Linked DNA regions of Homo sapiens. The protein of the gene in region 2 purifies or fractionates together with the protein of the main gene of each other region. This does not show direct contact. Each region holds a gene or a part of one and is shown on either strand. Other genes may lie near its edges. The genes, in order: DHX38, LBH, HABP4, OTUD4, THEM4, RP9 and GTF2F2.

Evidence for each region.
Region 1: the proteins of LBH (region 2) and DHX38 purify together in Homo sapiens (affinity purification with mass spectrometry; one large-scale study listed by BioGRID and IntAct). This does not show direct contact.
Region 3: the proteins of LBH (region 2) and HABP4 purify together in Homo sapiens (affinity purification with mass spectrometry; one large-scale study listed by BioGRID and IntAct). This does not show direct contact.
Region 4: the proteins of LBH (region 2) and OTUD4 purify together in Homo sapiens (affinity purification with mass spectrometry; one large-scale study listed by BioGRID and IntAct). This does not show direct contact.
Region 5: the proteins of LBH (region 2) and THEM4 purify together in Homo sapiens (affinity purification with mass spectrometry; one large-scale study listed by BioGRID and IntAct). This does not show direct contact.
Region 6: the proteins of LBH (region 2) and RP9 purify together in Homo sapiens (affinity purification with mass spectrometry; one large-scale study listed by BioGRID and IntAct). This does not show direct contact.
Region 7: the proteins of LBH (region 2) and GTF2F2 purify together in Homo sapiens (affinity purification with mass spectrometry; one large-scale study listed by BioGRID and IntAct). This does not show direct contact.

What each region holds. Positions count from the first base shown.
Region 1 is NC_000016.10:72,103,166-72,107,350, reverse strand, and holds part of DHX38 (pre-mRNA-splicing factor ATP-dependent RNA helicase PRP16), read right to left. Parts: coding exon 4,140-4,185; intron 3,750-4,139; coding exon 3,563-3,749; intron 3,406-3,562; coding exon 3,220-3,405; intron 2,866-3,219; coding exon 2,725-2,865; intron 2,325-2,724; coding exon 2,214-2,324; intron 2,120-2,213; coding exon 2,003-2,119; intron 1,835-2,002; coding exon 1,727-1,834; intron 1,347-1,726; coding exon 1,234-1,346; intron 12-1,233; coding exon 1-11. UniProt on the Homo sapiens protein: Probable ATP-binding RNA helicase. Involved in pre-mRNA splicing as component of the spliceosome.
Region 2 is NC_000002.12:30,255,223-30,258,404, reverse strand, and holds part of LBH (protein LBH), read right to left. Parts: intron 973-3,182; coding exon 784-972; 3' UTR 1-783. UniProt on the Homo sapiens protein: Transcriptional activator which may act in mitogen-activated protein kinase signaling pathway.
Region 3 is NC_000009.12:96,480,880-96,485,064, reverse strand, and holds part of HABP4 (intracellular hyaluronan-binding protein 4), read right to left. Parts: intron 604-4,185; coding exon 432-603; coding exon of another isoform or gene 408-431; exon of another isoform or gene 406-407; intron 1-405. UniProt on the Homo sapiens protein: Ribosome-binding protein that promotes ribosome hibernation, a process during which ribosomes are stabilized in an inactive state and preserved from proteasomal degradation.
Region 4 is NC_000004.12:145,170,203-145,174,387, forward strand, and holds part of OTUD4 (OTU domain-containing protein 4), read right to left. Parts: intron 1,519-4,185; coding exon 1,468-1,518; intron 1-1,467.
Region 5 is NC_000001.11:151,895,746-151,899,930, forward strand, and holds part of THEM4 (acyl-coenzyme A thioesterase THEM4), read right to left. Parts: intron 1-4,185. UniProt on the Homo sapiens protein: Has acyl-CoA thioesterase activity towards medium and long-chain (C14 to C18) fatty acyl-CoA substrates, and probably plays a role in mitochondrial fatty acid metabolism. Plays a role in the apoptotic process, possibly via its regulation of AKT1 activity.
Region 6 is NC_000007.14:33,102,432-33,106,616, forward strand, and holds part of RP9 (retinitis pigmentosa 9 protein), read right to left. Parts: intron 1-4,185. UniProt on the Homo sapiens protein: Is thought to be a target protein for the PIM1 kinase. May play some roles in B-cell proliferation in association with PIM1.
Region 7 is NC_000013.11:45,126,774-45,130,958, reverse strand, and holds part of GTF2F2 (general transcription factor IIF subunit 2), read right to left. Parts: intron 1-4,185. UniProt on the Homo sapiens protein: TFIIF is a general transcription initiation factor that binds to RNA polymerase II and helps to recruit it to the initiation complex in collaboration with TFIIB.

The DNA.
Region 1 (4,185 bases), on a different chromosome or scaffold from region 2:
GGGTGTAGAGCCTGCCGGGGAGAAGACCCCATCTTCTCACCACAAGGAAACCCCACAGCAGCCAGTACAGATGAAATCCCACAGGGAGGGAGGAAATTCTCATTTCTTCTCCCCACCCACTACTTCAGTGAATCACTGACTTCCACCTATTCAAAACTCCAATCTGCCAATTTAGCCCTTCTTCTGGAGCCTCTTACATGTTTCATTTCTTTTTTTTTTAGACAGAGTCTCACTCTGTTGCCCAACCTCTGCCTCCCGGATTTAAGCGATTCTCCTGCCTCAGCCTCCCGAGTAGCTGGGACTACAGGCATCCGCCACCACGCCCAGCTGATTTTTGTATTTTTAGTAGAGATGGGGTTTCACCATATTGGCCATGGTGGTCTCAAACTCCTGACCTTGTGATCGGCCCGCCTCGGCCTCCCAAAGTGCCAGGATTACAGGCATGAGCCACCACACCCAGCCATCTGTTTCATTTCTAGAACCAATGGGCCTGGGACTAGAATCATGGCTGGGTTTTATTTTCTTGATATTTTTCTATATTCACTAACGCTCTATAGTGAATACATTAATTTTTTTAATTGGAACAAAAAAGGGGAAGAGAGCCAGGCAGAGTGGCTCACACCTATAATGCCAACAGTTTGGGAGGCCAAGACAGAAGAATCGCTTGAAGCCAGGAGTTCACAATACCAGCCTGGGCAACATAGCAAGACCCCATCTCTACAAAATATGAACAAATTAGCCAGGTGTGGTGGTGCCTGCCTGCAATCTCAGCCCCTTGGGAGTCTGAGGTGGGAGGTTCACTTGAGTGCAGGAGATCAAGGCTGCAGTGAGCTGTGATTGCACCACCACACTCCAGCCTGGGGTGACAGAGCAAGACCCTGTCTCTAATTGGAAAAAAGAAAGAAAGAAAATGGGGAAAGAGAACAATAGAAATAAAAAGAACCAATGGCATCATCTGTCCAGACCTACCCTCTGAAGGGAGGCAGGCTGTAATTACCTGCATGTGTACCTACATCCACGTAGGTTGGCCTCAGACCTCTGAAATCCCTGGAAAGCCACTCCTTCCTTCCACTCAGTAGCATAGGATGAAAGGACTAACAAGTGGCAGCCCTGCCAGCAGCTTCCAGCCTTGGGGACCAGCTCTAGAGCCAGCATCCTGCCCGCCCCCGCCCGGGCTCCACGCTCAGCAACCCCAGCGCTGCCCCAGAAAGCAGGCTAGCACAGGGCTCCTACCTGAAACACTGACCTGGGCCCGTCCTGCCGGCTCGCCCTGACCGCTGGTTGGCATTGGCCTGGCTAATGGGATAGATCTGCAGAGCATCCATGCCAATCCTGGGGTTGAAGACCTAGGAGGGGACGGCAAAGAGCTGACGAAGGACAGAGTGAGGGGAAAGTGGAAGTAGGCCTGAGACAAAGGCAAGCCCTGGTTGCTACACATGGCAGAGGAAGAGCCAGGAGGCTCTAGAAATGTTCTCATGAACACCTGAAGAAGTCTTCCCCACAAACACCAGCTCTCTGAGCTCTACTGTTAAATTATCTACCTCATCGAGTATTACAAGGGTTAAACAAACCAAGCACAGTGAGTCAATGTGAGCCTCCCACCACCACCACCACTTCCACGCGCTCCCCACATCCCAGGGCCAGGAGCGAGGCCCTGGCTTCCCACCCCGCAGCTAAGTTAGCTTCTGGTGAACACCCAGGCCTTGCCTCCCATGTCTTCTCTTACCTTTAATTTGCAATAACCAGAATCGATAACAAACATGATGCCGTCAACAGTGAGAGACGTCTCGGCAATATTGGTGGCAACGATGCACTTCCGAACGCCATCTGGAGCCTAGAGCAGGACATACAGGAAGGGAAAAATGAGTCCCTCGAGACAGGAAAGGCTCCGCGAGGGGGAAAAGCCTACCTCCTAGCCCACCCCCTGCCAGGACAGTCACATCCCCTCTCGCTTCCTTTAGAGAACTCCAAGAGCCACTCCTGGACATTCCTGCTGACACACCTTCTGGAAGATTTTGGCCTGGAGGTCAGAAGGCAGCTGAGAGTAGATGGGCAGCACAGCCAGGGCAGGCGCGTTCTCCAGTTCCTCCAGATGCTCCACAATCTGGTCTGAGGTCACCTGAGAGCCCAGGGAGGAGCTGTGAGACACTGGAACCCTAACCTCTCATATGCAAGACACACCCGCTCATCACAGTCGTGACCAAGGCACGCACCTCAATGTCCTCTTGGCCAGGCATGAAGATAAGGATGTCTCCAGGGGCCCCCGACAGGTGCACCTGCAAGGACTGCTTCACTGCAGCCTCCACGTAATCCTCCTGTGGGGTCTGCAACAGCAGTGGGGACACAGTCAGAGGGAGGTACTAGAAGCGCAGGCCGGGCATCTCCTGGGAGCCCAGTGGCCCAGGCACTGCTCTGGAATGGAGCCATGGACTTTGAGGGCCACCACACCTCCACATGGGCCTGACTGCGAGGCCTCTACAAGAGGGCACAGTGCCTCCCTGGGCCCTGTACTTCAGCCTCAAAGAAATAATGAAACAAAACCTCACCCAGAGCAGAGTCCTTTGTCCCCGAGTCCCAGAGCTGCAGGCTGCCCCATTTGCCCCATGGTCCCCAGGAAATCTTCTCCAACCCAGTCCCCTACCCACCCTCCACCCTCCAGCCGGCTTCGCATCAGAGAAGTGCGTGGCATGGAAGGGTCAGTTCGTAACATGGTGGCCTCAATACCTTGCTGAAGAGGATGTCAACAGGGAAGGTACGGCCAGGGATGTGGAAGATGGGGACATTCCCAAAAAAGGCAGCAAACTTCTCCGCATCCATCGTGGCTGATGTGACGATGAGCTTCAGGTCTGAGCGCCGAGCCACTACCTGAGAGAAGAGGCGGCTCGGAGGCCCCCATGGTGGGGACCCTTGGCTCCTGTCCCCCAGTCCCATCAGCACCACCCCCGAGGAAACACAAGCCAAAGCTGACAAATGGGCCTATTCAATTCTTACCAATCATGAAGACTGAAGCAATGGAGCCACTGCCCAGAAAACCCCAAGCCACCCTCAGCAGAGCAAGAACAGCATGAACTACAACCCGAGTCTGAACTGCAACCAGAGGCCTCAGGAACCTCTGGCCTACCAGAGACCCCCTCAGCCCACCTGGAGCAACCCACTAGCTACTGGTGGTGCACTGGTCAACACCCCATGCGCAGAGAGACCAAACCACACAGCCCTCACCTCCCGGAGCAGCCCAAAGAGCACGTCAGTGTTGAGGGAGCGCTCGTGGGCCTCGTCCATGATGATGGCACTGTAGTGATCCAGGTCGGCTTCCCGGAGGGACTCTCGGAGCAGGATCCCGTCAGTCATGTATTTGATCAAGGTGTTCTCTGAAGTGCAGTCTTCAAAGCGGATGGCATAGCCCACCTGGAGGTCAGAGAGATGGCTCAGATGCCCTGGCCACCGGCTCACCACCAGCACACCCCGTACTGGGGTCCGAGTCTTAGCAGATCACACCCTTTAGCAAAAATGGGTGGAAGCTACTAGGGAATAACTACATGGCTCAGCCCCCACGCCCACTCACCTCCTCGCCAAGGTTTCCCCCCATCTCTTCACTGACTCTCTTGGCCACTGACATGGCAGCTACACGCCGGGGCTGGGTACACCCAATCATCCCATAGTCCGTGTAACCATCTTCATGCAGGTACTGCGTCAGCTGAGTGGTCTTACCACTCCCCGTCTCCCCAACCACGATCACGATGCTGTTGTCTCTACAAGGACAAGCAGGCAAAGGGCTTATCAGCCGAAGTGGAAGGCCAACACCCAGCCTCCAAGAAGACTCCGCTACCTCCTATCCCCATGACTAGCTATCCAGGGAGCATGCCGGTTTAGAAGGGAGAATTTCACTGGGACAACAGCCTCTTACTGAGATAACACCTGAAACATCTGGAATACGGTGAGGTTTAAACAGGTGAGCTAAAACAAAATGGTGCCATCCCGTTACTTTGTGCAGTGTACCCCAGGCATGAGGTCAGAGGAAAAAAGTATTTCCCTTCTCCACTGGGTGCAATGCACAAAAGAAAAAGAGCTCCTGGGTAAACATGGGAGACCAAGGGCACCCCTGACTTGACACTAGATTCCTGGGCCCCGGGTGAAGTTACCTGATAATAGTGAGCAGCTCCTGCTGCACTGCAAAGATGGGCAGGT
Region 2 (3,182 bases):
GATATATCAGGGAGAAAAGCTGAAAAGCACTGCCTCTTAAAAACCGATCACACTGGCTATGTGAGCCTACCACAGCTGGGAGCAGAGAGGCCATGGAGTAGAATGGGGTGACCTTTCCTTTCCTGCACTTCACCTCCAGCTGGCTTTGCAGGCAGCCAATTGCTCCTGCTCTCCTTTACTCTCCTCCCTGTCATATAGACCAACACACCTGAAATGAAAGCAAAGGGTGGGGTGGGTGAAACTGGAGAGAGAGATGAAGACTTTGTTTTCTGATGTCCCAGCAGCCAGAGTGAATGTCTGCTGAGCGCATCCTGGCTGCAGTTCTCTGCTCAATGTTTTCTTAAAAACATGTATTTTTTCTTTTGCCTCATGTTTGTTTTCTTACCCCAAATGTTCCTTGCTTGCTTTGCACATGCCCCACCTCCCACCCACCAAGACCCATTGGAATCCCACCACTGCCTCTACTAGGCTGCCTGAGTTCAGATAATGATCTCAAAAACAGCACTCGCTCCCCTCACCCACTAACCCCCTGGCTCTAAGCAGCTTCCTTTCTCAGAGGGCCTTGCAAATTGTCAGAGGGCTCCACTGCTCGGCAAATTTCAAAAAAAAAAAAAGGCAAGAAAAGAAAAGAAAACCAACTCGGTGATCTGCAGGTGCAAAACAGAAGCCTCGTTTGACATTTTCAGAACAATTGCGGCTCACTCTCTTCTTCCGTCATGATGGGAAAAACACAGTTCAGGAACAGATGCTGGCTGGTATGACCCATGGGAGTCCACAGGGACTCTACTGCTCTTTATTTTCTTTCGCTGTCTCTTCGCAGTTATCTTGCTCATCCTCCTGGACCAGGAACTCCTCAGGGGGCCACCGGAGCTCCCCGCTCTCCACCTCCCCTTCTGTGGGTTCCACCACTATGGAGGGCAGACGGTCCTTCAGTTTGCAGCAGCGGTCAAAATCTGACGGGTCTGGGAAGATCTGAAAGAAAAGCAGAGCAGGTGCCTGGTCACGTAGATATTTGAAAAGAGAAATTCCATTCCTTCTTTGCACATCCATGTGGCATACTGGGTGCATGCCATAGGCCAGGGACTGTGCTTTGCACTCGGGAGGCTGTGGAGTATATAAGGTGGGAGCCACGGGAGAATATTCTGGGGCAACATAGGAAACTGTCCCTCAGTCAGACTTCCATTCCAATCCTGAAGCTGAAAGTTTGGGGGCAGTGCCGCTGAGTTTAAAGGTTGATGTGATTCTGTTTGGATTCTGTATTTTATTTGCAGATAAAATCATCCCAAATCATGTTATCCACAGTAAGTCTGGTCTCTCTCTGCAGGAAGTATTTTACTCCAGCAGTACAAAGAATACAACAGGTGCCACAGCATTAAGTACCTCCCGGAATAATTATTGGCACTAAGTGAGCAGGTTACCAGGTGCTATACATATATCACTTCCAACCCACACAGTCATGCTGAAAAACAGGTGTTGCTAATGCTAGCTTAAAGAATCTCAGGCTTGGGAGAGTAGGTGGTCCAAGACCAGACAGCCTAGAAATGAGTGAGGGATGGGATGAGATTGAAAACTGGGTCTGGGCTGGGCCTGGTGGCTCACACCTGTAATCCCAGTGCTTTCGGATGCTGAGGCAGGTGGATCACGAGGTCAGGAGATCGAGACCATCCTGGCTAACATGGTGAAACCTCTCATATGGTAAACTACTAAAAATACAAAAAAAATTAGGCGGGCATGGTGGTGGGCGCCTGTATTCCCAGCTACTCCGGAGACTGAGGCAGAAAATGGTGTGAACCCGGGAGGCGGAGCTTGTGGTGAGCCGAGATCACGCCACTGGACTCCAGTCTGGGCGACAGAGCGAGACTCCATCTTGAAAATAAAAAAAAACAAAAACTGGATATGTTCGATTCCCCTGCCCCAACACCAGCTTGTCCCTCAAGCAGATGGGTCCTCATCCCATTGCAACTGTAAAGTCAAAGCCAAATCCTGATGAACGGCATGGTCCCCAGTCACAGGCAGGCTGGGAACAAAATCCAAGGATCCTTTTTCACCTGTGAACAGTTCCTGGCTTCTTGCCAGCTCTACACCTGAAGGAGTCTACTTCTTTTTCCAGAGTCCCGTCAGCCAGGCTTTGTTTTTTAATGCCTACTTTGTGTCCTGCCCAGAGCTGGCAGAAACTCCAAACCCAGCTATAAAATCAGGGCCAAATCTGGCTCTGCGGATTCCCTTTGCATACACTGCCCTGTGACTACAGCTGACCCAATTCTTGGCCCAGCAGTTTAAGTACTTAATCCGCTGGGCTGCTGGTCCCTGCCATTCACAGCCCTCAGTGACACACCCCAGAGCTAGAGAGAGAAGCCTCTGTCTGGGATGCTGGGCTCCCAGAATCAGGCACTTGGCACCTTCATGGCCATCTCTTCCCACCTCTCCATTTGGTAGATGAGCAACTCAAGGCCCCAGAGGGGTCAGGAGACCTGCCTAAGGTCACACAGCTTGTTCATGGCACAAGAAAGGAAAGCAAAACTTTGAGTGGGTGGAGACACATTTGAAGAGATCTGGGGGGCTGCCTGGTCCTGCCTGCACCTTGATCCAGATGGGGACAGGCCCACGGCAGCAGACAGGAGTCACCCATTACCAGGACATAGAAGAAAGGCCCTTTTACAAACTCAGGCCTTCCCAACTTCTGTGGTGCTCTGAGGATACCCGGTCTTATTGCAACCCAACCCCATGCAGTGCTGCCCCAGCCAAGTCACACTCTCACCACATCACAGGCCACGTGGGGCTTCCAGGAATCACAGGCCTCAGTGAAGCCTTCCCAATACCTGCAAACGAGTGATTATTAACCATTTATCCAATAAGACCTATTGCTGGGGATTAAGCCTTAAGCCAGCTGCACAACCAGGCATCATTAAAGACTTAACGAGGCTCATAAAAGGTATCATAATGGCAGCCAGGAGGAAAACAAGTCCAGGGAGGGGATGGGCCAGTGTGGGTCACGGAGGCAGAGGGGGACACGGACCCCGACTCTGGGCTCTGTCTTCCTGACCAGGTTGGCCCAGAAGTTCTGCCCTCAGACGGCGCTGTGCCCAGACGTGCATGTGCCGAGCGAGGAGCGCCACGTGGGCTTTTTGGGTGCGTCCTCATTTCTTGGGTGGGGCCAGAGCCCCCCATGGGCTGTGAGGACA
Region 3 (4,185 bases), on a different chromosome or scaffold from region 2:
AAAAAAAAAGTCATCAACTACTCAGTGAAATGCTCTTATCAAGAAACAGAGTTGAAAGTAACCTACTCAGGGGACACAGAGTGTAGTTCTCCTTTGATTAACTCTGAATTGTACAAGACACAATCTGTAACTCTCCCTTGAGAAAAATGAAATACAGTTAATACACAGTATGTGTACAGTACCCGCATAGTCCCAGGGTGAGCAGAAGATGCACTGTCACTCTAACTGCTCTGTGCATCTGTCAATACCTCAAGTTTCAATTCCTTTTCTTAATGAACAATACAGTAAAATTAGGCATGCATCATCTCTGATTAGAAACAAAGACTGCCAACTACTAATGTTCCATTTTCAAGACAGAAGTGGAAAGGTACATTTCACTTCCAGTAAGGTAAAAGTAAAGATTACCTCTACATACGAAATGCAATGCTTACATCATCTCTGTATTTTGACTTGTGAATCACCACGGCTTTGGAAGGAACAGTGGATTCTGGTTTCCGGATGTTAAACTCAGGCTTTGGTCTGGTCTGTTCTTGAAGATTTTTCCACTCATCTAAAGTCATCTCTTGAACTTGGGTTTCTTCTTCTACCTCCAACTCAGGAACTCTATAAAGAGATATATAATCATAAAGAATACTTTTTGATGGTACTAAAATGTCTACTTTATAAAGAAAAAGTTATAACCATTAATTCAACATATTTTTGTGGTACTGCATTTCAAATGCAAATAAGGTAAGGAAATCTTTGACTCACAAGCTTCCATATTTCATTTTCAACATTTTATGTCATCACTGCCAACAGAAGATACTTCCTATCTGTGTTCAAATCAATCTTTGAAAAATGGGAACATCACCATCCTGATGACATTAACATCACACTTCACCACTGGCACTCCCTTCCAGACAGCATGACAGACAAAATGAGGTAATTATGGACAATGGGTTGAAATAAAATACAGGAAACCATAAACAAGTTTTAAAGCAGTGGCTCATGAATGCATACTTTTGCAAATATCCTCTTTAATGAGTTTTAAAAAGAAAACAAAAGACAGAAATATAGATTGAGAGCAAAGAATTCAGAGTCCAGAAATAAACCCTCACATTTACGGTCAACTGATTTTTTTTTTCCAACCGTGGTGCCAAAGACAATTCAATGGAGAATGAAAAGTATTTTCAACAAACGGTGCTTGGGCAACTGGATATCCACACACACCAAAAGAAAGAATGAAGTTAGACCTACCTCACACCATAAATACAAGAGCTAAAATATAAAACTCTTAGCAGAAAACCTAGGCAGAAACTTTCTTAACCCTGGACTGGGCAATGGTTTCTTCCACATGACACCAAAAAAACAAGCAACAAAAGTACATACATTGAACATCATCAGATACTTTTATACTACAAAGGACACCATCAAGAAAGTAAAAAGACAGTCCACAAAATGGGATAAAATATTTACAAATAATATATCTCACAAGGGACTTGTATCTAGAATACATAAAGAATTCTTTATGAACAGCCAAGCGTGGTGGCTCATGCCGATAGTCCTAGCTACTCAGGGGGCTGAGGTGGGAGGATCGCTTGAGGCCAGGCATCTGAGGCTGCAGTGAGCTATGATCACACGTGTGAATGGCCACTGTGTTCCACCTTGGGCAACAGAATGAGACACTGTCTCTTTAAAAAAAAAAAAAAGAATGCTTTATGAATTCTAGATACAAGTCCTCTTTAGTTGAGACAAATGACCACCCTCCCCCCAAAAAAGGCAAGGATCTGAGTGAACATTTTTCCAGAGAAGATATACAAATAGGCAGTAAGATGTTGCACATCATTAGCTATTAGAGAAAGACAAGTCAAAACCACAGAGCTGCACCAGTCCACACCCAGTGGGATGGTTAGAACCAAAACGACATTTGACAAGCGTTGGGGAGGATGTGGAGAAACTGGAACCCACATACACTGCCAGTGGGAATGTGAAATGGTGTAGCCTCTTTGGAAAGCAGTCTGGCGGTTCCTCAAAAATCTAAGCTGAGTTAGCCTCTGACCCGGAAATTTCACTCCTGGGTTTATACCCAAGAGAAATGAAAACACACATCCACATGAAAACTTAAACCCAAGTGTTCACTGCAGTGCTATTCATAATAGCCAAAAAGTGGACACAACCTAAATGTCTATTAACTAATGAGTGGATAAACCAAATATGGCACATTTTTTGGAATATTATCTGGCAATAAAAAGAAACAAAGTATTAATACACATTACGACATGAACAAACCTTGAAAAAATGATGCAAGTGAAATAAACCAGGCAGAAAAGACTTCTGTGTATGATTCCATTTACATGAAATATTCAGAGGAGCCAGATTCACACAGACAGGAGGCAGGTCAGTGGTGGCCAGGGCTGCAGGGAGGGAGGATAGGGAGTGACTGCTGAATGGGCATGGGGTTTCCTTTTGGGATGATAACAACCTTCTGGAGCCAGATCATGGTGATGGTTGCATAACACTCTGAATGTACTAAATGCCACTGAATTGTACACTTTAAAAGGATTAAAATCGTAGATTTGAAAATCATCACAAAAATACACACAAAAAAAGAAAAACAGAAATGAAGACTGGCACATGCTACAACATGAATGAAGCTGAAAACTTGATGCTAATAGTTAAAATAAGCCAGGTGCAAAAGGAACATTGAACGATTCCACTTAGATGAGGCACCTAGAATAGGCAAATTCATAAACACGAGTAAAATAGAGATTACTACATGCTGAGGAGAAATGGGGAGTTAGTGTTAAATGGATATAGAGTTTCTGTTTGTGATGAAAAAGTTCTACAAGGCCAGGCACAGTGGCTCAAGCCTGTAATCCTAGCACTTTGGGAGGCTGAGGCAGGCGGATCATGAGGTCAGGAGTTCGAGACCAGCCTGGCCAATACGGTGAAACCCCGTCTCTACTAAAAAATACCAGAAAAATTAGCCGGGTGTAGTGGAATGTGCCTGTAGTCCCAGCTACTCAGGAGGCTGAGGCAGGAGAATCGCTTGAACCCGGGAGGTGGAGGTTGCAGTGAGCCGAGATCGCACCACTGCACTCCAGCCTGGACAACAGAGTGAGATTCCATCTCAAAAAAAAAAAAAAAGTTCTAGAGATGGATGGTGGTGATGGTTACACACAATATGAATGTTACTGATGCCATTAAATTATATATATTAAAATGGTAAAAATGGCAATTTTTATGTTATTTTTACTGCAATTTTAAAAAATTAATAATGTAACATACCCCAAACCATCCATCCATGCATTCAGTCGTTTACTCATTTATTTGTTTGATACAGGCTGGGTTTCACTCTGTTGGCCAGGCTGGAGTACAGTGGCATGATGATGGCTCACCATACCTTCAACCTCCTGAGCCCAAGGATCCTCCCACCTCAGCTTCCTGAGAGTAGCTGGGACTACAGGTACGAGCCATCAGGCCCAGCTAATTTTTACAACCATTTTGTAGAGACGGGGTCTCTCCATGTAGCCCATGCTGGTCTTGAACTCCTGGCCTCAAGCTATCCTCCTGCCTCTGCCTCCCAAAGTGTTGGGATTACAGATCTGAACCACCACACCTGGCCTATATACTTAGAGATTTGAGTGCTATAGTACGAGAATTATATCTCAAAAGTGTTTAAGGGGAAAAAACAGGCCGGGCGCGGTGGCTCACACCTATAATCCCAGCACTTTGGGAGGCCGAGGCAGGTGGATCATGAGGTCAGGTGTTCAAGACCAGCCTGACCAACATGGTGAAACCCCGTCTCTACTAAAAATACAAAAATTAGCTGGGTGTGGTGGCACACGCCTGTAATCCCTGTAATCCCAGCTACTCGGGAGGCTGAAGCAGGAGAATTGCTTGAACCCGGGAGGCGGAGGTTGCAGTGAGCCAAGATGGCACCACTGCACTCCAGCCTGGGCGACAGAACAAGACTCTTTCTCCAAAACAAAACAAAACAAAACAGTAGGTGGGGAGTGGGGAATCAAATCTGTATCTTCACTGAAGAGCTGATGTAATTTAAGGTTCTATTATAGAAATACACAGATCAATGTTATGAAAAATATAAGCAAAATCAGTAGAGAAACCTAACCACAGAGCATCCAAAATAGACAAATTTGCAGTGACTCTACAATACCAAGCTGATGGTAGAAAAAACATCAAAGC
Region 4 (4,185 bases), on a different chromosome or scaffold from region 2:
TTGATACAGATAACCTACAGATCACACTTTGAGAAACACGGGTCTAAAGCATAAGCTCCAAACCACTGACCCTAACACTGAAGGCTCTCCCACAGTCTGGCCCCAACCTGCCTTCCAACTCCTTTCTCACCACTTCTTATCTTCACATACTCAATGCTCCACACAATTGGAACTGTTTTCTGAATCTGCTTTGCTCACAGTTTTCACTGCCTGGAATGCCCTTCAGCCCAGGCATTTCCTATTTAGAATCCATTCAGACTTCAAATACAACTCACTCTCCAAGTGTTGCTTTGTCTACCCAGCTAGAAATAACACTTTGAATGCCTACAGCATCACAGCTATATACCTCTTGTGACAAATCTCCTTTTCTAGCTTGTATTGACCTTCTTTCCTATGATAGGGAAACTTTTTTGTTATCTACATTATCTCTGCATCCCCAGGGTGACTAGGAATTCTTGGCCCATAACAAGCACTCAAATTAGTGTTAGGCAACCAAATGGATACATCAGTCATCGATCAAACACCCTTGGTTCCTACATTACATTCCCTTTACTCCTTAACTCTTCTTAGCTTTTTTCTTTGCCAATGTTATTTTTACCTTAACATTCTAAATGGCATTCCAAGATACTTGGATTTTTACAGTGAGAACGTTAGTTTTGTAAACAGAAAAATTAAGAAAAATCCTTTTAACATAAACATGACTGAAAAAGTATAGCAGCAGGAGTTGGTGAGTAAGTGCTATCCTTTTCTGTCTCAACAGTCTCTTCCCTCTTCACGAGATGATCATGGAAATAGGAACCTGCATGAAAGAACTCTGCCTTCTCAGTTGCCTAGGAAGAAAAACTCTGCAGGCCAGGTGTGGTGGCTCACACCTGTAATCCCAGCACTTTGGGAGGCTGAGGCAGGCGGATCACGAGGTCGAGAGATCGAGACCATCCTGGCCAATATGGTGAAACCCCATCTCTACTAAAAATAAAAAAATTAGCTGGACATGGTGGTGCACGCCTGTAGTCCCAGATACTCGGGAGACAAATCGCTTGAACTCGGGAGGCGGAGGCTGCAGTGAGCCGAGATCATGCCATGCACTCCAGCCTGGCAATGGAGTTAAATTCCACCTCAAAAAAAAAAAAAAAGAAATCAAACTTCACCCTGTCCAAGTTCCATACACACACCAACGTAGCATTCTGAAAATCATCACCCCAGTATTATTTCAGATTTTTATACTACATTTACATGCCATTATAGCCAAGATAAAATATCACAACTCTGCCTTAGTGAGGCAACCTCTAACATATAGCTCCAACTTAAGTGCTGCATAAAATGTGTAGGAAACGTTTATAAGGAAATAGGATACACCGTCACTGCAACTCCTCTATACACTGTAATAGTAATCTTCTATTTTAATGAATTTTAAATACATTATTTGGATATATAAAAATAGAAATATACTAGAAGACTGTGACATACCTGTGGATTTTCCAAACGCTTTAAATATTCTTCAAATGATCCTTCTATAAACTGCAAAAAATAAATCTATTAGAAATGTCATCTAACATATATGCCAAAACAGTTAACCGCTTCGCTGTGTAAACATTCACTGTGAATTACTGAGTTTGTACATAAACCTAAAATACCTCAGTATTATTTAAAAATATGTACATAATCTAATTATGAAAACATATAGCAATCATTAAAGACTATAAACATACAAAAGAATTTAAAGAAGGAAATTCTGTCAGGAAAGGTTTCCTGAAAGAAGAGTGACTCAAGATGAATGCTGGACAGGATCTGGATGGCAACAGGCAGCTGATACTCTACAGAGAGGGCCAATGTGGCGTGAGGAGGAAGAGGAACACTGTGTTGGGAAGACAAGCAATCTGGCCAGCTGGAGCAGGACAACCTGTTGTGGAACTGAGTGGGAGAAGAACCCAAAGGGGGGCCTGTTTACAGAGGGCCTTGAGCCCAGGCAGGACTTGAAGGCTAGATGAGAAAGGCCATTCAAGGCCACTTCAGGTGACATTCTGAACTGAGAAATTATATGATGAAAGCAGTGCTTTAACTTGGTAGTGACCAGTGTGTAGAAGGGAATAAAACAAAGACTGACTTACAAGCTAAGAAATAGTATAGCTTAATAATACAGATAAGAGTACTCATTGTCTCTCAAGTGATACTAGAAAGAGCGATGAGAACTAGTAAGGCGAAAAATATTTTGAAGCATCAACAAAATTTTTCTAATACAGCTTGCTTCATCGCTTCATTGTTACTTTGACATAAAAACAGTTTATTCAAGCTGTGTAATAACACAACCTTTTTTATGTTTCTTTAATAGCAATCGCACTCATTTGAGAAATCTCTAAAAGTCATTTGTTGAACCACCAAATTCAATTGCGTTTAAATTACAGTCCCAGTTGATTTAGCAGAGATATACTTAAAGACATTAAAGTATACTCCCTTGTCTATAAAATCTTTTAAGCACCCTTGGATTTTAAGATTGAGATTCTTTCATAGATTATATAATGTCAAATTGCCAAAAATATCTTAAATTTCGAAAGATATTTATAATAAAAGAGCCATATATATTAAAGAGCCCACCAATAAAGGGCTACTGTTCTGTATTAGATGATTATAGGTCTAAGGAAAAAAAAAACACAGAACCATTTAAAGTTACTAGAGACTGCAGAATTCTGACACAAGCCTGCATCCTCTCTGAGAGTCTCCTTTCTGAGCAGAAAGCGTCCACCTATGCCATGGCTGAACAATGTCAGTAACAAGGCATAATACTTTCTACAACATCTCTTTCCAATTCTGGACAACTGAAACTGCTTGAAGGTTCATAAAAGGAAAGTGAAACTTTTCCCCATGGAACTTTCAACCTCTGATCATACCTCATAAAATTATATGGACTAAGGCCAGGCACGGTGGCTCACGCCTGTAATCCCAGCACTTTGGGAGGCCGGGGCAGGCAGAGCATGAGGTCAGGAGATCGAGACCATCCTAGCTAACATGGTGAAACCCCATCTCTACTAAAAATACAAAAAATTAGCCTGGCGTGATGGTGCCAGGCACCTGTAGACCCAGCTACACTGGAGGCTGAGGCAGGAGAATGGCATGAACCCGGGAGGCGGAGCTTGCAGTGAGCCAAGATGGCGCCACTGCACTCCAGCCTGGGCGACAGAGCGAGACTCTGTCTCAAAAAAAAAAAATTATATGGACTAAAAAAAATATATGCAAAACACTTAATGCCTGGCATATAGTAAGCACCTCAACCAATGTTAGCAATGTCCATTATTATCAACACAGTTTTACCCTCTGGGGCCAATGATTAATAAGAATTAATTTAAAGACCATTCCACCTCCCCACTTCCCTTCTCTACCACACCTCTGCACTCTCTTATCTAGCCTCTGCGTTACCAGGTTTTTTTAATAAAACAAGGTTTCAAGCCTATCATTTGCAAAGTATTATATCAACATTCTCTACCAGTCAACTGGGGGAAATAACACCCAAAGTTGTCAGATTACATAATTCTAGGTCTTAAAACCAGTAAGTAATAAATCCTGTAAGACTTTGAATGTAAAATGAAAACAGGTCACTGTGGCATCTTATTTCACATACTACTGAGAAAATTATATTAAGCTGTTATACAACATTTTATTAACTATTAATCACTACTTACATAATTATAATGTTCTGACATGTGAGTTCACACTGAACCCTGAAAATTAAAAACCTATGAATGCCTTCTGATAAAATTAAGGGTTCAGCATTACTTACACTCAGCGTATTTTTTACACTGCAAGTCTGAATTTTTTTTTTTTTTTTTTTGAGACAGAGTCTCACTCTGTCACCCAGGCTGTGGTGCAGCGGCGCAACTCGGCTCACTGCAACCTCTGCCTCCTGGGTTCGAGCAATCCTCGTGCCTCAGACTCAAGAGTAGCTGGGACTCAGGCATGTGCCACCATGCCACTACTTTTAGTAGACACAGAGTTTTGCCATGTTGGCCAAGCTGGTCTTGAACTCTTCACCTCCCAAAGTACTGGGATTACAGGTGTGAGCCACCATGCCCAGACTGAATTTTTTTTCTTTTAATTTATAGGGAGTTACCCATCACAGAAACCACTATTAATCACAACACCCCCAATTCCCTGACCATGTCAGACAAAGCCCACTCTTAGTATGCAAGGGCC
Region 5 (4,185 bases), on a different chromosome or scaffold from region 2:
ATGTAATCCCCAAAGTTGGAGGTGGGCCCTGGTGGGAGGTGAATGGATCATGGGGGTGAATTTCTCATGGACGGTTTAGCACCATCCTCCTCGGTACTGTCCTCATGATAGTGAGTTCTCATGAGATCTGGTTGTTTAAAAGTGTATAGTACCTTGTGCCTTGCACTCTTGCTCTTGCTGTGTCCATGTGAAGTGCCTGCTCCTGCTTTGCCTTCTGCCATGACTGTAAGTTTTCTTGCTTCCTTTTTTTTTTTTTTTTTTTTTTGAGACAGAGTCCCACTCTGTTGTCCAGGCTGGAGTGCAGTGGCGCAATCTTGGCTCACTGCAACCTCCACCTCCTGGGTTCAAGTGATTCTCCTGCCTCAGCCTTCTGAGTAGCTGGAGTTACAGGTGCCGCCCCACCACACCCGGCTAATTTTTGTATTTTTAGTAGGGATGAGGTTTCACCATGTTGGACAGGCTGGTCTCGAACTTCTGACCTTAGGTGATCTGCCCACCTCGGCCTCCCCAAGTGCTGGGATTACAGGAGTGAGCCACTGTGCCCGGCTGACTGTAAGTTTTCTGAGCCCTCCCCAGCAGCCAAGCAGATGCCACCATCATGCTTCCTGTATAGCCTGTAGAAATGTGAGTCAATTAAACTTCTTTTCTTTATAAATTACGCAGCCTCAGGCATTTCTTTATAGCAATGTGAGAACAGCCTAATGCAGTGGGCAAAAGAGGCATGAAACAGTTTTGAGGGGCCTTATTACAATCATATGAAGTAGGTACTATTTATTATCCTCATTTTGCAGATGATGAAATTAAGGCCTAAAAGAAGTTTGGCATTATTAGGGTGCAAGAATAGGGGCAGATGGCTGCAGAAATGCATGTAAAACCTTAACACTAAGCTAACTGGCTTGAATTGTATCTGCAGTGCTCTCTGAGGGATTTTAAATGGGGGGTAACATGATTAGATCTTTCCATAATATAAAAGATAGTGGGAGTGTCCAAGGTTGAAATCAGAGGGCCCTATTTGGAAGCTACTAGGGTAACTCAGGTGAGAAATCATGAGAGCATGAAGCAGAACTTGGTGACAATTTGGATAAGGAGGGTAAGGGAAAAAGAGAAATACAAGACCCAGTACCAGGATTCTGAATCCTGCAGTGAGGTGAATGACAGAGCCAATTACCAAAAAATATAGGAGAAAGAGGAGTAGGGAGCTCAGGGGACAAGTTTTTGGTGTCACAGTAACCACAACTTCCATCCATCTATTTCTGTAGCACCAAGCACTGCTATTACTCCAATGCCCAGGCAACAAATGGAACATTGCAGGGATCCTAGAGGACCTGGAAGACAAAGTGTGACTTACTCAGGAGCAGAACAAAGTGTATGCCCACAAACACCAGAAAGGAAACTGGCTTTTTGGACTGCTGCAGTTATCTTGGAACATGTAGGATCACAGAAGCTATTAACTCCATGGCATTCTACTTTCAGCCACCCTTATCAATTCATTCAGATTTAATGTACCTACAATACACACACTGCACCATAAAACCAAAACGGGGAGGTCACAGTATGATGGGAGAACCAGCTTTCTGCTGACAGGGGCTGGCTCCAATGCTGGCTTGGTGGGAAGAATACAGAGAACCTGTCTCAAAAACTCTATGGAAGAAGAGACAGCCTGGCCTCCCAACCTATATCTTTCTTCCATGCTGGATGCTTCCTGCCCTCGAACATCGGACTCCAGGTTCTTCAGTTTTGGGACTCTGACTGGCTCTCCTTGCTCCTCAGCTTGCAGACAGCCTATTGTGGGACCTTGTGATCGTTCTTAATTATTGTAGGAACATAATACGTGTTGGATTGGGCAGAGTGATTCCTCCAACTTTCTTCAAAATCGTATTAGCTGAGCATGTGGAGGCTTGTATTGTGAATTTTAGTTCAAGATTGACTGCAAGAACCAGCAATCCCAAGAGGACCCACAGACCCTCTGAAGGAAGCGGACTACTCCTGCAGGACCGGGAGACATCCCAAATACTGTGAGTGCCCCAACTGTGGAATTGGGAAAGAAAGACCCTCCTCTCCTGAACACACACCCCTACTGGAGAAGCTGGTCTGTCTGCAGGAGAAATTTCTGACTTTACCTGGAGCTGAGTCAAGTTAGAGAGCTAAGCTGAGCGAAATACAGGGTAAGGGAAGCAGCAGAAAGGCCCTGGGAGCTCACTGGGTCCCCAAGCAGCCCATACCTGCCTGGCACCACAGGGATTCATCAGGAGGGTGGCCAAAGGAGCAGGGGGTAAAATTCCACAGGGAGAAGAAATTCTGCGGCTGAACTTTGTAACAGTTTGAACTGGGGAGAAGCTTCCTGGCCAGAACTCGGGGAGGGCATGAACCCGGCTTGCAGACTTCACAGGTCGGGGAAGAACTAAAGCCCTTTTCTTTTGCAGCTGGGAGGTGGAAAGCCTCAGACAAGTTTTCAAGCCCGTCTTGCCCTCCACCTGGAAACAGACACGGGGATGTTGGAAGGGCATGGTGGGAGTGAGACCGGCCCTTCGGTTTGCATGGGAGCTGGGTGAGGCCTGTGACTGCCGGCTTTCCCCAACTTCCCTGACAACCTGTATGACTCAGCAGAGGCAGCCATAATTCTTCTAGGTACACAACTCCAGTGACCCGGGAATCTCACTGCCATCCCCCACAGAAGCTGCAGCAAGATCCCCCCAAGGAGAGTCTGAGCTCAGATGTGCCTAGCCCCAGCCCCAGGTGATGGTCCTTCCCTATCCACCCTGGTAGCAGAAGACAAAGGGCATATAATCTTGGGAGTTCTAGGGCCCCGCCCACCACCGGTCCCTCACCATACTGCTACAGCTGATGCTTTCTGGAAAGTGCCACCTCTTGGCAGGAGGCCAACCAGCACAAAAGTAGAGCATTAAACCAAAGCTAAGAACCCTCACAGAGTCCACTGCACCCTCTGCCACCTCCACCAGAAAAGGCACTGGTATTCATGGCTGGGAGACCCATAGACAGCTCACATCACAGGACTCTGTGCAGACAACTCCTAGTACCAACCCAGAGCTGGGCAGACTCACTGGGTGGCTAGACCCAGAAGAGAGAAAACAATCACTGTAGTTCAGCTCACAGGAAGCCACATCCACAGGAAAAGGGGGAGAGTACTACATCAGCAGAACACCCTGTGGAACACAAAAATCTGAACAACAGCCTTCAGCCCTAGACCTTCCCTTTGACAGAGTCTACCTACCCAAATGAGAAGGAACCAGAAAACCTACCCAGGTAATATGACAAAACAAGGCTTGTCGACACCCCCCAAAAATCACACTAGTTCACCAGCAATGGATTCAAACCAAGAAGAAATCCCTGATTTATCTGAAAAAGAATTCAGGAGGTTAGCTATTAAGGCAATCAGGGAGATACCAGAGAAAGGCAAAGCCCAATGCAAGGAAATCCAAAAAATGATACAAGAAGTGAAGGGAGGGCCAGGTGTGGTGACTCACGCCTGTAATCCCAGCACTTTGCGAGGCCAAGGTGGGCAGATCACAAGGTCAAGAGATTGAGACCATCCTGGCCAACATGGTGAAACCCCATCTCTACTAAAAATACAAAAATTAGCTGGGCATGGTGGCACACGCCTGTAGTTCCAGCTACTCGGGAGGCTGAGGCAGGAGAATTGCTTGAAGCTGGGAGGTGGAGGTTGCAGTGAGCCAAGATTGTGCCACTGCACTCCAGCCTGGGCGACAGAGTGAGTCAAAAAAAAAAAAAAAAGAAGGGAGAAATATTCAAGGAAATAGCTTAAAGAAAAAACAATAAAAAATTCAGGAAATTTTGGACACACTTTTAGAAATGCAAATTAACCTAATCCAACAAAGAGAAAGAAAAAGAACAAGAAAATATGAACAAAGCCTCCAAGAAGTCTGGGATTTTGTTAAACTACCAAACCTAAGAATAATTGGTCTTCCTGAGGAAGAGGACAATTCTAAAAGCTTGGAAAACATATTTGGGGGAATAATCGAGGAAAACTTCCCTGGTCTTGCTAGAGATCTAGACATGCAAATACAAGAAGCACAAAGAGCACCTGGGAAATTCATCACAAAAAGATCTGCACCCAGACACATTGTCATCAGGTTATCCAAAGCTAAGACAAAGGAAAGAATCTTAAGAGCTGTGAGAAAGAAGCACCAGGCAACCTATAAAGGA
Region 6 (4,185 bases), on a different chromosome or scaffold from region 2:
CTCCCAAAGTACTGGGATTGTATACATGATCCACCGTGTCCAGCTGCAGTTAATTCTCAAGATAAAAAAAAGTTGATTGAGATGCATTATTTTGTGCCATCTGAAAAGCCTTACTTAGTCATTCAGACTGTACTAACTTTCTCTGAGTAGGAAGAAGACCAGTTATGTCTGAGACACGCTGTCTTCTCAAGTGTGTACAGAGTAAGAAATCTTTTGTTAAGTGTTTCAAATTACTCTTTCTGTTGACTGTTGAGATGGGTTTTCTTTGAGAAGAGTCCCTAATGCAAGTGTACTCCATTCCACACAATTGTTCCTGCAGCTGCATCCAAGGGGCTGCGTGGCAGAGGTGAAACTGCCACATACACCCAGAAGGTCCACTCTGTTATGCCTGGCAGCCCAGGAGCTATTAAGTGACAGAGAGTGTTGGAGCAGGTGGAAGCCTCGGATGCCCTCAGGGGCCTGGCAGGCAGGGTCACCGAGGGAAAACTGTGGTGGAGACTCAGGAGACTCCATCACATCAGGGATGAAAAGATTTGAATTCAATTTATAAAAGAGCACTGTGGGGCTTCCCATTTAACATGGCCAACTGACCAACATGCTTATCTATCTCCTTCCCCAGATGCTTTAAAAATGACAGTGAAAAAATAAAAAGGCCATAAAGATATCCCAAAAGGAGGCAACATCAGAGGAAGTTTTCAACAAATTTGGGAAAGTGGAAATAGCAATGGATTTCCTGGGGTGGAAGAAGTAACACTTTTCAGAAGATGAGGCTTCCTTCCTATAGCCAGGAGGCTGCCTGCCCAACACTTGAAGGAGGCTGCAGGGTTAGCCTCTCCAATTCAGCAACACTGGCAGCCAGGCAGAGATCCCTGGCCCCCAGGCAGAGGACTCAAGACCCTTCTCTAGAGGAACTTAGGAGCCCCAGAAAAAAATCTCCAACTACTGACATTTGGAAGTCTCTTGATAAAAAGGGTACCCTGCAGCATGAGCGCCCTATCATGAAGCTATCTGATCAACAAACAACACCTTCTCTCTTTTTTCTCTCCCACACACAGCTGCCCTTGACAAGAGCTGTATAGCGCCTACTCTTAAATGAGTTGAGGCCAGAGCAGCGGCTCATGCCTGTAATCCCAGCACTTTGGGAGGCTTAAGTGAGAGGATTCCTTGAAGCCAGGAGTTCGCGACCAGCCTGGGCAACATAGTAAGATTCCATCTCTAAAAAAAAAAGTGTAAAAAAACTAGCTAGGTGTCATGGTGTGCACCTGCAGTCCCAGCTACTCTGTAGGCTGATTCAGGGGGGATCACTTGAGCCCAGGAAGTCGAGGCTGTAGTGAGTTATAATCGTGCCACTGTGCTCCAGCCTGGGTGACAGAACGAGAGCTTGTCTCTAAAAAACACAAAACAAAACAAAATATGGTTGAGATTCAAGAATACCCAGATATTAGAGAAAAAAAAATTACTAAATGTAAGACAGCAATCAAAATAAAAAGCAAACAAGAAATAGAGGCAATGTAGGGAACAAAAGACAACAAAAAAGAAAAACGAGTGAGTATCCTCATAGATGAGTGAAGATATTTCACTTATGAAACAAGAACAGGATAATATAAAAAACAACTTGCAGAATGAGAAAAAGCTTTTTGATTTAGAAATATAACAAATATGTTTAGTAGAGAAAAAGATACATCTACAAAGTACAATGAAAATACAAAGACAGAAGAGATAGAGCAACAGAAAATCAACAGAAGGAAAAAACAAAATTGGGGAGAGGAAATAAGACATAAATTTATATATGTAGTTAATGCATTCATGACATGTCAAGAAAAAAAGAGTCAACTGCACAAACTGGGGAACAACACACACTGGGGCCCACTTGAGGGTGGAGGGCAGGCGGAGGGTGAGCATCAGAAAAAATAACTCTTGGGTACTAGGCTTTGTACCTGGGTGATGAAATAATCTGTACAACAAATCCCCATGACATGAGTTTACCTGTATAACAAACCTACACAGGTACCCCTAAACCTAAAATAAAAGTTAAAAAAAAAAAAGTCAATTGGAAAAGACTAACATTATCATGAAACTTCAGGATGGCAGCAATAAAGAATAGTTTCTTAACGTTTAAGGGTGAGGTGAACTTGAACAGGTAACTTATAAAAGAAAGGGACTCAGAATGGCATCAAACTCCTTAGCAGTTTTGGAAGCTAGAAGATAGTGATGTACTATCGCCAAAACTGAGTGAAAATTGTTGTTACTATTTTCCTCCTGCCTCAGCCTCTGGAGTAGCTGGGACTACAGGTCCATATCATTGTGCCTGGCTAATTTTTAAATTTTTTGTAGAGACAGGGTCTCACATTGTTGCCCAGGCTGGTCTTGAACTCTTGGCTTCAAATGATTCTCCTGCCTTGGCCTCCCAAAGTGTTGGGATTACAGGTGTGAGCCAGCATGCCCAGCCCCAAAATGATTTTTGACCTGTAATTTTATACCTAGTCAAATTATGTACCAAGTTTTAGGATAGAATAAAGACATCTTCAGATATGCAAGGTGTCAAAAACTTTACCTCCAATGCACTCTTTCATAGGAAGTTGCAGAATTGGCTTTGGTAAAATGTGAGAGTAAACTTATAAAGAGGAAGACATGGAATCCAGGAATGAGATGCAAGATAGGAGAGTGGGAAAGGATGCCCTAGGACCACTGCTGGACCAGGTCTAAAAAGTAACCAGTGTACTGAAGGACAACAGATTGAAGAGTCTAGGTAAAAAATGAACTGACTACCTGATATGTAGTTATGTGTGGAAAAAGTACTATTGGGGCTCAGAAAATGATACCCCAAAGTATGGTGCTTTGGCATGCTGAGTACTTTGAACTAAATGAGATTAGAGAAGGCCTCAGAAGACAGTTGCTCTCTGACCTTCTCTTGCCCTCCTGTCTCCTGCCCTTCTTTCTTCCCCAAAGCAGTCAGAGAGGCCAGAATTCCTCTTTTCCACAAGTGGGCCATAAAAACTAGAACAAGTCTCCCACAAAGCAAGCCAGAAGCCCTACAAATAACTTTAATTTTTTTTTTAAAGAAGATAAAATCTCAGTGGAACTTTTAAAAAAATATTTAAAATAATAATAATAAACTCCTACAAATATTACCCTAACATTTCCTTGCCTTTCTGTGTCAGAGGTGGCCATAAAAACATGAGCTGACCTACCTTGTTTGATAGATCAGGACCCCTCATTCCAGAAAGGGTCCTGCCCCATATCTGGGAGGAAGTAATCGTACACAGAGAGGCCTGAAAAATCTGAATAGACAGGGCTTGCTGGATTTTCCCTATGACCACTGTATTATACCCTTTTTTGTCTAATCATATTTCTACACTGCTATACATTCTTCATCCAAACTAAGCATAAAAATAGTTTCCTCTGGGTCTCTGGGTCTTCCTTTGTCAACGTTCCCATGTCACATAAAACTTTGATTAAATACATTTGTTATGCTTTTTTCTTGTTGACCTATTTTTTGTTATAGGAGTATCTGCTGTGACTCCTATGATAGGTAAGGAAAGATACCTTTTCACCTTTATGGTACTCAGATTTTGGAGACATTGGGGGAAAAACAGCAGTAGAAAATTAAGTAAGTGAAAAACAAAGGCTCTTATTAACTACTTAAAAGTTAACAATAGTATAGAAAGCAAAATAAATCAGAGTACACTACCTGGCTCAAAGTGAGTAATAATTCATAGTTATATTGCTGTTTTTTTTTTGTTTGTTTGTTTTTGAGACAGGATATCACTCTGTTGCCCAGGCTGGAGTCCTGGAGTGCAGCCATGGCTTACTGCAGCCTCAACCTCCCAGGCTCAAGCAGATCTTCCCACTTCAGCCTCCCAAGTAGCTGGAACCACAGGCATGTACCACCATGCCTGGTTAATTTCTTTTTTCCTTCTTTCTTGCAGAGATAAGGTCTATAAATGCTGCCCAGGCTGGTCTAGAACTTCTGGCCTCAAGCGATCTTCCCACCTCTACCTCCCAAAATGCTGGGATTATAGGCGTGAGCCACAGAGCCCAGCCTAGTTATAATAATGTTAATACTAAGCATTCGTTTAGCAAAAATTGCTATGATGGAACTATACTGGAAGATTGGAAACAAGAAGGGTAGGTAAAGAACTAAATCCTTACTGTGACAAGAAGTTAAGAGGTATGTCTAAGATG
Region 7 (4,185 bases), on a different chromosome or scaffold from region 2:
AATCTTAAGTAACTTCATCCAGTCTCGTGGCTTTAAAATACCATCTGTATGACAACTCTCAAACTTACAACAAGCTCAGGTTCTCCCCTGAAGTCTCAATTTATATATCCAACTGCCTACTCAAACTCTCCATCTTAATATTCAGTAAGCATTTCAAACTTAAAATCTCCATACTAGAACTAATTTCTCCCTCATAAACCTTGCTCCTGCTGCAATTTTCCGTATCTTAATAAAAGGCAACTCCATTCTTCCAAACACTCAGGCTGAAACCTTGGAGTCATCCTGAATATTTTTTTCTTATACCCCAAATCCAATCAACTGATACATCCTGTCAATATCTTCAGATTATATCCAACTCCAGCCTTTTCTCACCAACTCGAGTTACTACCCTAGCCCAAGCCACCATCATCTCTTGAATAATTATTGTTTTAACAGCCTCCTGATTTCCTTGCTTCCACTTTTGCCCATGTACAGTTTATTCTCAATAAAGCAGCCAGAATGGTCATCTTAAAACCTAAGTCAGATGATACTGTTCTGCTCAAAACATTTCCATTTATTTAACAGACATCTACATAGTGCTTACTATGTTTACCAGACACTTTTCTAAACACTTTACAAATATTACTCCATTTAATCCTTATAACAGCCCTATCATCATTCTATTTTGCAACTGCAGAAACTGAAGCACCAAAAAGCTATTATTTGCCCAAAGTCTCACAATCACTAGCGGTGAAACTAGGATTCTAACCTAAGCAGTCGACTCCACAGTCCACGATTTTAGTCACCATGCCATGCTGCCTCTCCATGGCTACTAGCTTCCCATCTCACTCAGAAGAAAACTCCTATAATGTCTTAGGTGACCCAGTTCCCTGGATGATCCTATCCCATATCTTCAACTCCTACTCTCCCTCTCACCTTACTCAAACCACACAGACCTGTGAACATTTGCGGTGACGTCCCATCTAAAGACGCATTTGCTGTTATTTCTGTCCGGAACACTCTTCCCATGGGTATCTGCAAGGGCAAGCCCATAAATTCTTTACGTCCCTGCTTAAAGACCATCTTATCAGTGAGGTCCCTTCCTGCCCTATTTAAAATAGCATCACCAGTTACTTTATAGATCCTTGACCTTGTTTTATTTTTCTTCAGAGCACTTATCATCTGCTTTAAATGTATTTGTTTATCGTCTATTCTCCCTCCTCATTAGAACGTAATCTAATTAGAACGTATCTGAATAGGCAGATATTGTAATTTTGTTTACTGTCATATCTCTAGCATCCAGAATAGAAGAATAGTTATCATTTTAATGAGTGGATATTGAAGAAACACTAATGTAACAGCAATGATGGTCAATACTGGAATATACCTAGGATATATAATTTACTACACTTCATTTCATTCTCAGAGGGAAGTCTCAGTTCAGAGATCCACCTTAAAATAAGGGGGAAGGGTTGGGCATGGTGGCTCACGCCTGTAATCCCAGCACTTTGGGAGGCTGAGGTGGGTGGATCATTTGAGCACAGGAGTTCGAGACCAGCCTGGGCAACATTGCAAAACCCCAACTCTACAAAAAATACAAAAATTAGCCAGGCATGGTGGTGTGTGCCTGTAGTCCCAGCTACTCGAGAGGCTGAGGTGGGAGGATCACTTAAGCCCAGGGAGGTCGAGGCTGCAGCGAACCATGATCGTGCCACTGCACTCCAGCCTGGGTGACAGTGTAAGACTCTGTCATAAATAAATAGGAAGAGGACAAAATGCAAATAGTAGAGTAGGACATTTTCTAACCTACTACTTTGCCCTAACTGCTATACCCTGAAATGCTCTTAAAGAGAACACAAGAATGTTTGGAAGCTTTGGAACTCTTAAATGAGATCATACTTCTTCAACATATTAACCAGATCAGGATTTTCTGTGATCAAACTACTGGAGACTACGATTTAGGCCTTCAAACAAGAAAGCACTTCAAGGGAAAGTAACTATATATCATACATTAAGGCAAATTTAAGAATCAAATTCAGTACAACAAATTATACCTAATACAAGCAACTGCCAACTTAAAAACATTGTGTCGGGCATGGTGGCTCACACCTATAATCTCAGCACTTTGGAAGGCTGAAGAGGGAGGATCACTTGAGCCAGGAGTTCGAGACCACCCTGGGCAACATACGGGGACCCCATCTCTACAAAAAATTTAAAAATTATCTAGGCATATTAGTGCACACTTGTGATCCAAGGTACTTGGGAGGTTGAGGCAGAAGGATCGTTTGAGCCCAGGAGTTGGAGGCTACAGTGAGTCATGATCACATGCCACTGCACTCCAGCCTGGGTGACAGAGCGAGACTCTTTCTCAAAAAATAAAATAAAATAAAATAAATTTTATTTTTTTGAGACGGAGTCTCACTGTGTCACCCAGGCTGGAGTGCAATGGCATGATCTTGGCTCACTGCAACCTCCGCCCCCCAGGTGCAAGTGATTCTCTTGCCTCAGCCTCCCGAGTAGTTGGGATTATAGACGCCCGCCACCATGCCCAGCTAATTTTTGTATTTTTAGTAGAGATGGGGTTTCACCATATTGGTCAGGCTGGTCTCGAACTCCTGACCTCGTGATCTGCCCGCCTCGGCCTCCCAAAGTGCTGCAATTACAGGCGTGAGCCACTGTGCCCGGCCGCAAAAATAATTTTTTAAAAAGGCCAGGGGGGAGGCCGGGCACAGTGGCTCACACCTGTAATCCCAGCACTTTGGAAGGCTGAGGCAGGCGGATCACGAGGTCAGGAGATCAAGACCATCCTAGCTAACATGGTGAAACCCCATCTCTACTAAAAATACAAAAAATTAGCCGGGCATGGTGGCGGGCACCTGTAGTCTCAGCTACTCGGGAGGCTGAGGCAGAAGAATGGCGTGAATCCGGGAGGCAGAGCTTGCAGTGAGTCGAGATCGCGCCACTGCACTCCGGCCTGGGTGACAGAGCAAGACCCGTCTCAAAAAAAAAGAAAAAAAAAAAAAAAAAAAAAAAAAAAAAAAGGCCGGGGTGCCAGGCACAGTGGCTCATGCCTGTAATCCTAGCACTTTGGGAGGCTGAGGCGGGCAGATCACAAGGTCAGGAGTTCGAGTCCACCCTGGCCAACATGGCGAAACCCCGTCTCTACCAAAAATACAAAAATTAGCTGGGCGTGGTGGCAGGCGCCTGTAATCCCAGCTACTCGGGAGACTGAGACAGGAGAATCACTTGAACCCAGGAGGCGGAGGTTGTAGTGAGCCAAGATCGTGCTACTGCACGCCCAGCCTGGGCGACAAGAGCAAGATTCCGTCTCCAAAAAAAAACAAGGCCAGGGGTGGTGGCTCATGCCATAATCCCAACACTCTAGCACTTTGGAAGGCCAACGTGGGTAGACTGCTTGAGTCCAGGAATTTGAGATCAGCCTGGGCAACATGGTGAAACCCTGTCTCTACAAAAAAAAAAAAAAAAATTAGTTGGGCGTGGTGACACATGCCTATAGTCCCAGCTACTCAGGAGGCTGAGGCAGGAGGATCACTGCAGCCCAGGAGGCAGAGGTTGCAGTGAGCCGAATTCACAGCACTTCACTCCAGCCTGGGAGACAGAGTGAGACCCTGTCTCAAAAAGAAAGACCAAAAAAAAAAGCAGATTGTGCTCCATAAGTTAATGGACAAAAACAAGTTTGCAGCTCATATTGCACTGTCTTCATTATTATAATAAAACTGTAGATTCCCAGGTAAGCCCACCAGCTTATTTAATTCAAAGGTTCCTAAAATACTACACCCTTGCAATAAAAAATAATAATAATAGCACATTAATTATATATAACTCTCTACACCACGAACTTACAGAAATTGGCTTCCCAGAAGTCCCGGCCTATTAAGTCTCAAAAGAGGGAGGGAGAGGAAGAAAAAAATGACAGTATATATGGTTTCAAGGCTCCAAAACACCACTGTCAACATATCACTTACGATGTATCTGTGTTATTTCCACTATCTCACTCATTACTGAAAATCAGATGGAGACAAGGTAATAAGTACAACAGGGTATGGTTGCTTAGATTTCCCAATACCAGAGAAAGTGACAGAAAATAACTCACTACAGCATTATTTCCTCAAGGAAACCTCCCTTGACTTCCTAGACCAGGACAAGTCCCTTGCTATTCACATGCACAGAAACAATATTCCTTGC